Linked DNA regions of Homo sapiens. The protein of the gene in region 1 purifies or fractionates together with the protein of each later gene. This does not show direct contact. Each region holds a gene or a part of one and is shown on either strand. Other genes may lie near its edges.

Evidence for each region. The genes of interacting proteins can lie anywhere in the genome.
Region 2: the proteins of PLA2G12B (region 1) and GLG1 purify together in Homo sapiens (affinity purification with mass spectrometry, with the first as the bait; one large-scale study listed by BioGRID). This does not show direct contact.

What each region holds. Positions count from the first base shown.
Region 1 is NC_000010.11:72,951,985-72,956,018, forward strand, and holds the start of PLA2G12B (group XIIB secretory phospholipase A2-like protein isoform a precursor), read right to left. Parts: upstream 2,823-4,034; 5' UTR 2,702-2,822; coding exon 2,491-2,701; intron 1-2,490.
Region 2 is NC_000016.10:74,495,581-74,499,148, forward strand, and holds part of GLG1 (Golgi apparatus protein 1 isoform 3 precursor), read right to left. Parts: intron 1,065-3,568; coding exon 861-1,064; intron 1-860. UniProt on the Homo sapiens protein: Binds fibroblast growth factor and E-selectin (cell-adhesion lectin on endothelial cells mediating the binding of neutrophils).

The DNA of each region.
Region 1 (4,034 bases):
GTTCTCTAAGAATGACGTCATAGAATGGCACCCCTTTACCTTGGCTGTGCTTTGCAATCACCTGGGAAAAATGTTAAAATACTGATGTCTGGGGCCAACCCACAGAAATTTTGATTTAATTGATTTGGTGCCAGGTGTTGTTAAAGCCCCTCAGGTGATCTGAAGTGTACCCAAGTTAGAAACCCACTGTTTTAAATAGTAGTTAGTACCTATCAAAGGTAAAATCTGGCTGGTGCCGTGGCTCACGCCTATAATCCCAGCAATCTGGGAGGCCAAGTTGGGAGGATTGCTTGAGCCCTGGAGTTGGAGACCAGCCTGGGCAAGATGGTGAGACTCCCTGCTCTACAAAAAGTTACAAAATTATCTGGGCATGGTGGCGCACACCTGTAGCCCAAGCTAACTGGGAGGCTGAGGCAGGAGGATCTCCTAAGCCCAGAATCTCCTACTAATCAGAAACACCTGGGGTGGGGCCCAGAGATCTGGTTGAATCTGCCCTCCAGGGGCTTCAATTCACAGGTGAGTTTGAGAACCACTACTTAAAAGACGAGCACGGTGCATGAGAGATGTGTCACAAAGCAAACTACAAAAGAGCAGACTCGTTGTTAGGTGTTGTCTGTTCAAAAGATTGCTCGATTCACAATCAGTTTGAGAAGGTATTTTGTACTCTTTTGGGCACAGCCGCCAGGTTTTTGGCTCTACTGGGTTCCAAGGTAAGGAGGCATAACCGCCTATTTTTCTAAGTGTTTTTCAGGCCCCTCTTTGAGCAGGTTGTTTTACACAAAGTGAGAAGAGTTATTTGCCTTTCTCTTCTATTTACTCTTCCCATCCCCCACCAGTTGCTGCTGGCTTCCACCCTGCCCAGCCAGAGGCTCCGCAACTAAAATTTGCTTAAGTCTTTTAATGCTGTTTTGCTAGAGAAGGAAGAATAGGATTTGGTTCTTGATTTCCTAATAAAAATTCCTGCTGTTGCCTATTTGCTGAACTACAGATACTAGTCCTGTGTTGCCTTTAGGAAGGAAAACACCTGTGTTGATTCCAATGTCTGAAGTGAGTCAACCCCTTCCCTGTCCCATCCGTGCAAACAGTGTGAGCATAATCCAGTGGCAAGGCCTCTGCGTTGGTCCAACTGCCTTGGACAAATACATGGTTTTAGGGCCAGGTGGGTCCTAACAGACCAGGCATTTTTCTCTGTGAAACTTTCACAAAGAAGCTGCAGCATAGATGGTTAAAACATAGATGGTTAAAACATAGATTTTAACCATAGATTGTTAAAACATCTATGCTGCAAAACTTTGGGTCCTGATGCAATGATTAACCATTACCTCCTAGTCACTCTTAGTGTATAAGGAAGCGATTTTCCCCACTCAAAAAGGAATAGAGAGACTTAAGGGTGAGTCCGGGAAGTATGTAGTTTTTTTGTGCATCTCTTCAAAGCTGACTTTTTCTCTGTTGAGTATTTGGAGAAAATATTTCTCAAATGTGTTTTCCTGTTAGGCTAAATTGACTCACCATTTTCATTTCTAATCCCTTGATGAGATAGTTGATAAATTAAACCATAAAACTAATGCTACCTGAGACCTGAGACTGTGCATGCTTTGGAAAACGTTTTCATGCGCATTGGCAATTACACGATGCCACCCAGCTTCAAGGCCTGGGGCTCCACATTTTGCTCCCCTTACATTAACTTCCAGGGCCCCTGGGACCAGGGGCTCTGTGCCGGCAGCCAGGTGTGCACCTTATATCTGTGTACCCCCAGCCATATTCAGGCAAGGTAGGGGAAGTGCTCCTGCCAGCTCACAAATCTGCATCTGGCGCCAAGTCCAGGGGACAGCCCCGGGATCCCTGGTGAGCCACGAACCCTTCCTCTCCACAGCATGCCTGTCGTTGCCGAGGCTGCAGGCAGGGACAGCTCCCTTGAGAAAGTCCAGCAAATTGATGCCAGTCAGGGACTGAGAGCTGGGAGGACGGTGTGAACTGCAGCAGGGGGAAGGGAGAATTTGTTTCCAAGCTGAGCACAGAGCAGCTGAGGAGGTGGTTTTGCCCCATGGCAGATTTTTCTCTGAATGTTCGGCTTCAGTTTTCATCCCTGGGAACTCCTCACAGAGGCCTCTCATACCCACCCTCCTTCTTCCCACCCCAGGTACCCTTTTTTCCTAAGAACTGCCTCACAACAAACTCATTAAAATGGCCCAGGGAAGGTTTCCCAGATACAATACAGGAAGCTCAGTGAAATGTGAGTTTGAGATAAACAACGAAGAATTTGTCAGGATAAGTATGTCCCAGATATTTCACTGGACATACTTATACTAATGACTTATTTGTTGTTTATTTGGATTTCACATTTCACTGGGTGTCCTACATTTTTATCTGCTAAATCTGGCAGCTCTAAGTGGATAACAGGAAAAAGTGCAAGACAGATCGTGACCTCTCTGGGGCTGTCCATGGGTCCACCAGCAACAGTTTTTACAGAAAGAGAAACCGCACACTCACCATATCGGCACCTGTACTGACAGACTCCATTCTTCCCTCCCAGCAGCTCCAGAAAAGAATCGAAGTAGCTATTGACGGATTCAAAGCTTCCCCGGAGGTGCCGAAGGCCCCAGTCTGAATAGGACTCCTCCGTGTCAGGGCTCGTGTCGCTCTGAGCCAGGCCACCCCCAAGGCTGAGCCACAAAACCAAGAAGCCACTGGCCAGCTTCATCCTGCAGCCAGGTAGGTACTGGCTTCTCTCCTCAAACCCCAGCCAGTGTCCCAGAATTCCAGGGACAAACCCCCTACCCAGATGTCAGGCAGGACTGGGAAAGGGATTATCTGGAACATTCAATCTGTCTGTTCCCCAGAGGTGGACTTTAAACATAGCTATGGAGGTTGGGATGAGATCAGGGCAATTAGAAAGAGGGCAAAGGTTAGGGAGTGGGAGGGCCAGGGAGAGAGAACATTTCAAAGTGGATTCTACCACCCTGGAGGGAGGGAGATGTTAGCCAGCTTCTGAGACGCAGGAACGGTGAAGGATTCGGAGTTCTACCCCGACCAGCTTGTTAAGCTGTTGATCAGTTACAAGTGTGGCTCTTCAGGGCCAGCCTCTTGATAGAAGAGCTTGACCGAAGGTCCTAGCCACACCCCTCAGCCAGCTACCTACATAGTCTCCAAGGAGAGTCAGGAGGATGTGTACAGGGCCCAGGAAAGCCCCAGCGGTAGGAATTAATAGTCACTTTACCAAGGGTCACGATAGTGTCAGAGTAGGTACCAAGTGTGTGTTAAGCAGAAGTTCAGATTTGAGACCCCAGCTTCTGCTGTGGAACCCACCTGGCTCTGACGCATAAATCCTCTAATTTGGCAGAGCTCCCAGATGTAGCCATCTGAGTGCAGGGACATTTTGGCTTCTATTTACAGCAGTATCTCTGTTTACACTCAGCATAAGTGGATCATAAGACAAGATCTACAGATGGTCCAAGGACAATTCTGGGGGCACTCGGCTCTCCTGGTGGTGTTTTTCCTTTGAGTTTCTTAGAAGTCAGAGGGTTTATCAAATAGTCTATTTGGGAGTGTAGGCTTTTAAGACTGTTGACTGAAGTCTAGTGTTTTGGCATCGTTTTCAGTTTAGACTGCTTTTAGTCGTGTGAAGAAATGCCATCTATAAAATCACTAGTCTAGGACCGGGCATGGTGGTGCATGCCTGTAATCCCAGCATTTTGGGAGGCCGAGGCGTTTGGATCACCTGAGGTCAGGAGTTTGAGGCCAGCCTGACCAACATAGCGAAACCCCGTCTCCACTAAAAATACAAAAATTAGCCAGGCAAGGTAGCAGCCGCCTGTAATCCCAGCTACTAGGAAGGCTAAGGCAGGAGAATCACTTGAACCCAGGAGGCGGAGGTTGCAGTGAGCCGAGAGCACGCCATTGCACTCCAGCATGGGCGACAAGAGCGAAACTCTGTCTCAAAAAAATAGTAATAATAAAATAATCACCAGTCTATAAAAATGATACCTTTATGGACCACATGAATCATTTAGCTCCTTTCTCAAATGTTTGTCTGG
Region 2 (3,568 bases), on another chromosome or scaffold:
TAGAAGGCTGTTCTGTAGAGTCAGCAGGTGGTAATCAAGGATTTGGTTTTAAAGATTAGCCACCTGCTGTTTTCTTCACCTTAGCCAAAAACACATAAATATATAATGCGTCAAAGTTTTAGCCATTGAATAGATGTAAATAAGATCCTGGGTAAAATAAAATTCCTATAGATAAAACAGACTTCCAAGAACTGAAATTGAGAAGTGAGATAAAGCAGAAAAAATACTAAGTGGAGATCATTAGAAGCCAGCTGTTAACCAAATGTTCAGTCATCAAGGTTGAGCATCCAGTTACCACTTTCTGCTATACTGGGACCAATTTCTTCTTCCATTTCTGTGGCTTTTCTACATGTGAGGTTTCTTGATGGCTTATTTTACGTTAGAATAGAGTATTAAAAAATATTTAAGTCACAGTGGCTCGTGCCTATAATCCTAGTACTTTCAGAGACAGAGGGAGGAGATCACCTCAGGCCAGGGGTTCAAGACCAGTCCGGGCAATACAGCAATGCCCCATCTCTACAAAAAATTTTTAAAAAAATTGGCCAGGCAAGATGGTGCTTGCCTATGGTTTTAGCTACTTGGGAGGCTGAGGCAGAAGAATCGCTTGAACCCAGAAGTTGGAGGCTGCAGTGAGCCATGATCACACCACTGCACTCCAGCCTGGGCACCACAGCAAGATCCTGTCTCAAAAATTGGGGAGGCTGAGCTGGAGCACTGCTTCAGGTCAGAAGTTCGTGACCAGCCTGGGCAACATAGCAAGACTCAATCTCTCAAAAAACAACACAATTAAATTAATTAAAACAAAATTATATATGTGTAAAAATAAAAGGAAGAAAAGAACAGTTTCTGAGCTGACTCACATTTTCACAAAAACGCTCCCGATCATCTCGGCAAGCAAAATATAAATGCCGGTCTAAGTGAAAGTCATCCGATGACAGCTCAGCCACCCGGAGAATGGCTTTCTTGCAGAGTTCAGAAACTTGAATCTTGGGTTCTCTTTCTTCTGCTTCTTTCACCAGGCCTTTCTCCAAGCATGATACCACCTCACCTTGTGAATGTGCATCCTAAAATAGCGAGGATATTAATATTTTAAAACTTTTATCACATGGGTTTCAAATAAACAACATTTGGCTACACACACACACACACACACACACACACACACACAAAGTAATAAAACCCCATCATAGAGTTGACTTATTAACGTTCTACCAAGAAATCAAGTAAGAACCAACCACATTGTGGAAGTTAAAGAAAATGCTCTCAATAATCTTCAGTTAGAATATAATACTTGCATGCTACAAATGGAAACAGAGATCCTGGAAAGTTTAAGTATTATAGTTTAGTTAGCACTAGAAATAAGAACCTGAATTTTTAAAAATTTAAAATGTCAAAAATTCATAAGAAACACAACAGGGCCAGGCATGGTGGCTCATGTCTGTAATTTCAGCACTTTGGAAGGCCGAGGCAGGTGGATCACCTGAGGTCAGGAGTTCGAGACCAGCCTGGCCAACATGGTGAAGGCCCATCTGTACTAAAAATACTAAAAATACAAAAAATTAGCCAGGCATGGTGGTGTGCGCCTGTAATCCCAGCTACTCAGGAGGCTGAGGCAGGAGAATCACTTGAACCCAGTAGGCGGAGGTTGCAGTGAGCCGAGATCGTGCCACTGCACTCCAGCCTGGGCGACAAGACAGAAACTCTGTAAAAAAAACACACACACACACACACACACAAAAAACCACATCGGCTCAAAGTTCTGGTCATAGTTCATGTCAAGACTGAAATTACACTGCTGAAATCTCTGTTCATTTGTCTCTAAAAACCAGGCATTTCCCAAATAACAGTGCTTGCTTTTTTTTTTTTTTTTTTTTTGAGACGGAGTCTCGCTCTTTCGCCCAGGCTGGACTGCAGTGGCGCTATCTCGGCTCACTGCACGCTCCCACTCCCGGGTTCACTCTATTCTCCTGCCTCAGTCTCCTGAGTAGCTGGGACCACAGGCGCCCGCCACCACGCCCGGCTAATTTTTTGTGTTTTTAATAGAGACGGGGTTTCACCGTGTTAGCCAGGATGGTCTCGATCTCCTGACCTCGTGATCCGCCCGCCTCGGCCTCCCAAAGTGCTGGGATTACTGGCGTGAGCCACTGCGCCCGGCCAACAGTGCTTTCAGTCAAGTTAAAAACCAACAAACCACATAATCCACTAAGAAGTTAGAGACTTTCTTGCTCCTTTCCCTACTCTGTGGTGTCCACAAACATCCCAATATGTAGAATCTGTTGTTTAATACTCACGTTGATGTTCTGGATTTATCTTAATGGGATTTAACAAGATTACCACTGTTTACACAAAACGCTTCTGAGAGTTTTCTTAAAAACCATCCAATTATCTTTAATTGTACACTTCATCATCCCCATAGCAACCACAAACATTCATTCATGCAAAATATGAGATAGTTCCCCTAAATATTTTCTATTCAAGAGTCCTAATCTATACTTACAAGATATGTTTCAACAATTTAAGGTATAACCACTAATATAGCAAACCAAAGCATCTTAAAATATAGTGCTATTAGCCCGGCACGATGGCTCATGCCTGTAATCCTAGCACTTTGGGAGGCCAAGGTGGGCGGATCACGAGGTCAAGAGTTCAAGACCAGTCTGGCCAACACAGTGAAACCCTGTCTCTACTAAAAATACAAAATATCAGCTGGATGTGGTGGTGTGCACCTGTAATCCCAGCTATTCGGGAAGCTGAGGAAGGAGAATCGCTTGAACCCAGGAGGTAGAGGTTGCAGGGAGCCGAGATTGCACCACTGCACTCCAGACTGGGAGGTGCAGTGCAAGGCTCTGTCTCAAAAAAAAAAAAAAGTATATATATATATATATATTATATTTTATATATATATTTTATATATAGTGCTATCATTTATACACACGCAATTAAAATCTTGTTATAATAAAATACCTATCTATGAAATAATCTGCATATAATAAAAAGATTCTGGCCAGGCGTGGTGGCTCATGCCTGTAATCCCAGCACTTTGGGAGGCCGAGGCGGGTGGATCATCTGAGGTCAGGAGTTCGAGACCAGCCTGGCCAACATGGTGAAACCCTGTCTCTACTAAAAATTCAAAAATTAGGTGGGTGTGGTGACACGTACCTATAACCCCAGCTACTCAGGAAGCTGAGGCGAGAGAATTGCTTGAATCTGGGAGGCGGAGGTTGCAGTGAGCTGAGTTAGTGCCACTGCACTCCAGCATAGACAACAAGAGTGAACTCCGTCTCAGGCAAAAAAAAAAAAAAAAAAAAAGATTCCTAAAACCAAGTAGCGTAACATCTACTTCAGACAAAATTTCAAATCAACCAAAGAATGTATTTTTTTCTATTTTAATTAAAGGATTTGTCTATAGCACCTTAATTTCCAAGTGTTTCCATGAAAGCTTTCGTGTTATCTCCTAACACACATATGAAGAAAGGACACAGCTCTGATATCTACTGCGGACATGAATGAACAGAGGCTCAGAGGAGTTAACTAACTCATTTGAGTTGTAGAACATGAAGTGTCTAGC